2 linked regions of the Homo sapiens genome follow. The protein of the gene in region 2 interacts with the protein of the main gene of each other region in a pairwise test. Each region holds a gene or a part of one and is shown on either strand. Other genes may lie near its edges. The genes, in order: PGM1 and NLRP3.

Region 1 (3,825 bases), about 180 Mb from region 2:
GTCTCCAAGGCTCCTCAAACTCCACAAATCCAAAAACAAACACATGTTATTTCCCCCAATACCTAGTTCCAGCAGTTTCTATTTCAGTGGATCAACACTACAGTCTTTCATGTAAAGTGAACAACTAGGAGTTGCTCCTGACATCTTCCTCTGCATTTTCCCCATGCCCAGTCCATGAGCAGGCCTCAATGACTTTTCCCCGCTAAATCTCTCTCCATGGCCCCCTTTTCTCTCCACTCTCCTGCTGTTAAGTCTTGCTAAGTCAATGTCCTGTCTCTTACCTGGAGCAGTGAGTGCCTCCACATCCACTTGTGCATCTTCCAATTTCTTTCCCACACTGTTCCCAATGGGACTGATGTGGTTTGGCTCTGTGTCCCCACTCAAATCTCATCTTGTAGCTCCCATAATTCCCAAGTGTTGTGGGAGGGACCCGGTGGGAGATGATTGAATCATGGGGGTGGGTCTTTTCTGTGCTGTTCTCATGATAGTGAATGGGTCTCATGAGATCTAATGGTTTTAAAAACAGGAGTTTCCCTGCACAATTTCTCTCTTTTGCCTGCTGCCATTCATGTAAGACATGACTTGCTCTTTCTTGCCTTCCACCATGATTGTGAGGCTTCCCCAGCCACGTGAAGTGTAAGTCCAATTAAACCTCTTTCTTTTGTAAATTGCCCAGTCTCAGGTATGTCTTTATCAGCAGTGTGAAAACAGACTAATACAGGAATCTTTTTTTTTTTTTTTTGAGATGGAGTTTCACTCTTGTTGCCCAGGCTGGAGTGCAATGCTGCGATCTTGGCTCACCACAATCTCTGGCTCCCAGGTTCAAGCAATTCTCCTGCCTCAGCCTCTCTAGTGACTGGGATTACAGGCATGCGCCACCACGCCCGGCTAATTTTGTATTTTTAGTAGAGATGGGGTTTCTCCATGTTGGTCAGGCTGGTCTTGAACTCCCGACCTCAGGTGATCTGCCTGCCTTGGCCTCCCAAAGTGTTGGGATTACAGGCGTGAGCCACCGCACCCGGCCTAATACAGGAATCTTTAAAAATGCAACAACCCCTCCCCACATCTACTTCTCGCTTAAAGAAAAAAAAAAAAAAGAGAGAATTCTGTTGCTTAATAAATGCTTTCAATATTAAAAAAAAAAAAAAACTACTAATCTGGTTGAACTGCCCATTTTACAGATGAGAAAACTGATACCCAAAGAGATGAAGTGATTTGACTAAATGACTCAATAGCAGAGCCAGGAGTAGTACATTTTCTACTGCTGAATGCTACTTTTTCTTATCTAAATCTCCACCGATCCATTATACCTGGAAAAGGAGAATCAACTCCACCTGCTGAAACTACCACATTTCCCCTTAGGGCTTGGGCAGTCCCCACAAAGTGCTGATGGCCTAGCAGCTGCAGAATAAGGAAAGGCAGCTCCCCGGCTAGATGGTGATACACCTGGGCATTGTGGGAACCTCACACCATCCACTGCCATTCCACCTGCTGAGGACTATGGTTCAGAGGAAACAAATTTCATTCACTCTTTGAATCTACCACGTGCCAGGCATTTATCTTGATGATCAAAAGACAAACACAATTTCCTTCTTCCTTTTCTCTTGTGCTATTAAGTGTCTATAATGCAGACCCCATTGCCTTTGGTTGAAGTTTTAGGGATGCCTACAACACAACAAGGTACTGGTGATGACTGAAACTGGGGCCTGGCCACTGGAAAAAATGTAAAAGTGAAGCATTCTCTCATCTCCCACTTTCTGTAATAAAAGCAACTATACTACTCATGTGAGGTACCTACAATGGTCAAATTCACAGACACAGGAAGGAGAAAGGTGGTACCAGGGATTGTGAAAAGGGAGAAGCAGGGAGGTGCTGTTCAATGGGTACAGAGTTTTAGTTTTGGGGGAAAAAAGTTTTAGAGATACGTTGGACAACAATATGAATATGTACAACATTACTAAACTATATACTTAAAAATGGTTATAATAGCATTATGTTACACTTAAAGTTAGACTAAAAAAACTAAGAGTGCTGCTTATTCTGAAAAGTTAATCCTATATGCCAGCCACAGTGTTTAAACATTTTACATTTATTATCTCCTTAAACCCCGGTAACAACTAGATGAAGTAGGTATTACTCTGCCATTTGACAGACAAGGAAACCAAGATTCATAAAATTGTAACAACTTACCCAGGGACACACAGTTATTAAGTGGCAGGAATAGAATTTAAAACAAGATCTCTTTAACTTTGCTCAAAACCACTATGCCAGGGGTTTCCAAATGAGTTTCACAGGATTTTAATTAGGTGTTAAAAGAAAAAAGCCTTTGTGGAAAAATAAGCATGGCAAATGCTATTTATTTTATTTTACTTTCAATTTTTTAATAAAAATTGTTTATGTTTAAGGTATATAATATGATGTCTTGATATACAAATACATAGTGAACTGATTACTAGAGTCAAGCCAACTAACATTATCAATCTTGTCACCTACTTACCTTTTTTGTTGTGGTGGTGATAGTGAGAACAATTAAGATCTATTCTCCTAGTACATTTCAAGTGTTATTCATTATAGCCATCATGTTGTACATTCCATCTCTAGAACTGCTACATCCTACATAACTGAAATTTTGTACCCTTTGGACCAATATCTCTCCATTTTCCCCATTCACTACCCCCTAGTAAGCCCCTTTCTGCTCTGTTTCTATGAGATTCACTTTTTTTAGATCCCACATACAAGTGAAATCATGCAGTATTTGCCTTTCTGTGTCTGGCTTATTTCACTTAGCATAATGTCCTCCAGGTTCATCCATGTTATTGCAAATGGCAAGATTGGCAAGATTTTGGTTTTTGTTGTTTTAAGGCAGAATAATTTTCCATTGTGGTATACACACACACACACACACACACACACACACACACACCACAATGTCTTCATTCATCTGTAGATGGGCACTTAGGCTGGTTCCATATCTTGACTATTGTGAATAATATTGAATGAACAAGAGAGAACAGATATCTCTTTGACATATTTATTTCAGTTCCTCTGAATATATACCCAGAAGAGGGATTACTGGATCGTATATTAGTACTAAAATATTTTTAACTTTTTGAGGAACCTCCATATTTTGGTTATTCCAAAATAGCTATACCAATTTATATTCCCACCAATAGTGTCTGATGGTTCCCTTTTCTCCACATCCTTCCCAACACTTGTTATCTTTTGTCTTTTTGAGAACAGCCATCCTAACAGGTGTGAGGTGACAGCTCATTGTGGTTTTGATTTTCATTTCCCTGATGATTAGTGATGTGGACCACCTTTTCATACGCCTGTTGGCCATTTGTATGTTTTCTTTGGAGAAATGTCCTTCAGCAAATGCTATGTAAACAGGCACCTTTACTGCAAGTCTTCTCAGCACCCTCTTTTTTTCTTTCCTTTTCTTTTTTTAGAGATGGGGTCTTGCTATGTCACCAGGCTGAAGCGCAGTGGGTATTCACAGGTGCAATCCCACTACTCATCGGCATGGGAGTTTTGACCTGCTCTGTTTCCAACTTGGGCCGGTTCACCCCTCCTTATGCAACCTGGTGGTTCCCCTCTCGGGAGGTACCATATTGATGCCAAACTTAGTGCAGACACCCGACAGGCATAGCACACTATAGCCCAGAACTCCTACGCTCAAGTGATCTTCCTGCCTCAGCTTCCTGAGTAGCTGGGACCACAGGTGCAGGCCACCATGTCCGAAATCTTGGAGCCTTTATGGTGCATTGCATTGTATGCTGTGAATCACCAAGAAGGGGCTAATATACCACAACACTTCCCCAACTT
Region 2 (3,825 bases):
GAAAAACTTGCTTCCAAGACACTCACATGAATAGTCACCCATTTTATGTGTGCATGCTTGCAAGCATGCAAGTTATCGCATAGTGCATGCAGCCTCTACACTAGGAAAGAGCTCTCACCCTGCAGCCTCTACACTAGGAGAGGACTCTTACACTGCAGCCTCTATATCCTCAACAGTGTCATGGCTCAGCACCTTCACCTATGTAGCCATGCTCTCCCAGGTACACAGGCTGGTTTGTTAGTGTCTGTCTTTGAAATGTGGTGCCCAGACCTGATGATGCATGGTGGATGTTTTACCTCCTGTTGCAGAGAACTATGGTTTCACTGGTGGAATCTCTGATTTCCTTGTTTTTTTTGGCAGTTACATAAGCCTTTTGATTCATGTTGGAATTCTGCAGTAAACAGTAGTAGGGAATACCCACTAATAATCATGCACTTTCCCTGTACCACTTTCCTGTATCACTTTCCCTGTATCACCTGCTCTTTCATGTTCTTACATGGATTTTCTCAGTTGGCTTCAGAAAGATGCTATAGGGTAGGGTATCTGTGTCTCCAATTTAAAGAGGAGAAAATAAAATTCAGGGAGCCTCATAACTTTGTCCAAGGACACTCAGAGAGAAGGTAGTGGAACTCAGTGTAGACAAACGTCTGTGACCTCCCAAGCCACTGCCTTAATTCCCAGTGCATTGCCTTAGGAGATGTTGCTAATGGGCTCTCTACAGGGCTTCTTCATCTGGCTCTCAGCTTAAGGGTGGGACCTCCAATTTAGCTTTGCTAAACCTCATCTTACCTGTCTTTTGACCCATTGACTAGGCAGTTTTGAATCTTCATTCTGACAATAATATCTACAAATACAATAAGCAAATTGGATAGGTCTTCATTCATTCACATTATTAATATATATACCAGCCAGATCAGCATTCAAGACAAAATTTGGCAGGAAAGGTCTTCCCAGAGGAGTAATCCACTAATCCATAATTAACAACCAACCTCTGTTCACAAAGCTCTGATACTTCCTTGGACCTCTCCCATCAGCCAATCCTCAGATGTGACCATATCTCTTTCTATGAAGTCTTCCTGCAGTGCCTTCATTTCCTCGCCTTAGGGTATTACCCTTCCTTAGCAAATCGCCTTAGAATATTACTCTTCCTTGGCAATTTGACTTCTGCTTCTCTAAGTTTGTTCAACAGACATGATTTTGTCCCTTCATTTTGCAGGCCCTCTGGGGGCTCTGTGGTGGGCACTGACAGCAGCAGTGAGTAAAACAGACCAAAATCCTGTTTTCACAACCGTTCTTTTAGGGAAGTGATAACAGATAATAGACATGCTAAACAATATACCCTGTGTATAAGAGCTATAAGAAAAACTGGAGTGACGGCGAGGGGTGCTTCTCTGCTCACGTTTGGCGAGTGCCTCTCCGAGCGGGTGACATTGGAGCAGGTGCTCAGTGAAGCGTGGGATGGGCTGTGAAGGAGCCGGAAGAGCCCTCCAGGCAAAGCAGATGGAACCGAAGAGGCCCAGGCGTAGGCACTCAGGTGACTCTCAGTGATCCTGGTTCCAAATTCCACATGACAAACAAGCCAATTACAAATGTGCCTGATGCATCTGTAATATGCTCTATGTAGTTACTATTGTCAATACCTAACCTGGTAGAGCTGCTGTAATAAAGTATCACAAACAGAGCGGCCTAAACAACAAGAGTTTATTGCCTCTCAGTTCAGGAGGCCAAAGTCTGAGACTGAGGCATCAGCAGGCTGGGTCCTTATAGGTCGTACAGGTCCTTCCCAGTCCTTACTTTAGTTGACATCTGCTGCCTTTAATTCATTTCACTCTTCCTCTTTGGAAGCCTTCTTCGCTCTTATTTTTAGGTCACTACTTAGTCTTTCCTGCTAATGTTATAGCTTCCCCCTCCCTGGATCCTGCATTGGCTTCTCTTCCTGTGGTCTGGGGATTTCACGACTGGTTTAGTTGTGTTTTTTTTTTTTTTTTTTTTTTTGAGTTGGAGTCTTACTCTGTCACCCAGGCTAAAATGCAGTGGCGCAATCTTGGCTCACTGCAACCTCTGCCTCCCGGGTTCCAACAATTCTTCTGCCTCAGCCTTCTGAGTAGCAGGGACTACAGGTGTGCACTGCCATGCCTGGCTAATTTTTGTATTTTTAGTAGATACGGGGTTTCACCATGTTTGCCAGGCTGGTCTCGAATTTCTGACCTCAGGTGATCTGCCTGCCTTGGCCTCCCAAAGTGTTGGGATTACAGGCGTGAGCCACACACCCGCCTGGTTTACCTTTTTTGTTGTTGTTGTTACTAAATATTTCTAAACTCCCTGAGAATTCTCATATACCTCTCAATTTCAACAACAGTAGGTCTCAAACCCAGATATCATTCACAAACTTTTTATTAGAAAAGTAACACATGCTTGGTGTAAACATATCATAGTACAGACAAAGTGGAAAGTGAAAGCTCCTTCTCAGCCCTCTTCTGAGAGAGCCATTTACAATAGTCTGATGAACAACCATCCAGACTTTTTTTAATACAATAGATTGTTATATAATCCATTCATCTGTCCATCCATCCATCCATCCATCATCCATCCCTCTATTTTCCATCCGTCAATCCATCCATCCATCCATCCATCCATCCATCCATCCATCCATCAATCCATCCAAGGGAGTATCAGAGCTTTGTGAACATATATTGGTTGCTAATTATGGACAAATGGATTTCCTGTATATGCTGATCTGGGTGGTATTTATATCAGTAATGTGAATGAAGACCTATGTGATTTTCATGTTGCATTTGTAATACATTGTTATGTAGTATTTTAAATGCCTAGTCTGTTAGAGCTACTGTAATAAAGTATCACAAACAGAGCAGCTTAAACAACAGAAATTTATTGTCCCTCAGTTCTGGAGGCCAGAAGTGTGAGATTAAGATGCTAGCAGGCTGGGTCCTTCTGAGGGCTGTGGGGAATCTGTTCATGCTTCTCTTTGGCTTCTGGTGGAATGTCATCTTGCTGACACATTTTGCCATTCCTTGACCTGTAGATGCCTCTGCCACACCATTGCCTTTATCTCTACGTGGTGTCTTCCCTGTGTCTGTGTGTGTCTTTCTCCATGTCCCAAGTTTCCCTGTGAAAGAACACAAGTCATGTTAGATTTGTAACGACCTGATCTTAACTAATTACATTTTCAGTAACCGTATCACCAAATAAGGTCACAATCTGAAGTACTGGGGCCTAGGACTTCCACATATAAAGTCTTAGAGGAAACAATTCAATCCATAACACCCTATCTATTGAAACTAGAACCATAATATAAATATTTTTCTGTGATATCCTTTTTTCATTTATCATGGATAAATTTCCATGCTGATTTGTGTAGATCTATCGATTGGGGCATAATATCCCATAGTGTGCTTTACCATAATTTATTTAATCAAATCATGCATTTTGGGATAACTGTTCTTTTCCACTATTACAAACAACTCTGCAAAAAGCACATTTGTATATATAGTTTTATGCATGTGTATTTGCTTTGAGATAGGTATCTATAAGTGGCATTAATCAGTCGAGACTTTTATGCATTTTATGTGTTAGGTACAGCCATACATGTGGCTGTGTGTTAGGTATAGCCTATGGGTTAGGCATAGCCTGTGTGTTAGGTATAGCCTATGGGTTAGGTATAGCCTACGTGTTAGGTATAGCCTATGTGTTAGGTATAGCCTATGTGTTAGGTATAGCTACATTTTTTTCTCTCGAACTTTGGGTCCTCATCTCTGGCTGCATATTGTGTACTGCCTGTCTCAATACTGCTCAAGGGTCACACAT

Evidence for each region.
Region 1: the proteins of NLRP3 (region 2) and PGM1 interact in a two-hybrid assay, tested with the Homo sapiens proteins (one large-scale study listed by BioGRID).

The regions. Positions count from the first base shown.
Region 1 is NC_000001.11:63,655,670-63,659,494, reverse strand, and holds part of PGM1 (phosphoglucomutase-1), read right to left. Parts: intron 1-3,825. UniProt on the Homo sapiens protein: Catalyzes the reversible isomerization of alpha-D-glucose 1-phosphate to alpha-D-glucose 6-phosphate. The mechanism proceeds via the intermediate compound alpha-D-glucose 1,6-bisphosphate.
Region 2 is NC_000001.11:247,436,407-247,440,231, forward strand, and holds part of NLRP3 (NACHT, LRR and PYD domains-containing protein 3), read left to right. Parts: intron 1-2,874; exon of another isoform or gene 2,875-3,127; intron 3,128-3,825. UniProt on the Homo sapiens protein: Sensor component of the NLRP3 inflammasome, which mediates inflammasome activation in response to defects in membrane integrity, leading to secretion of inflammatory cytokines IL1B and IL18 and pyroptosis.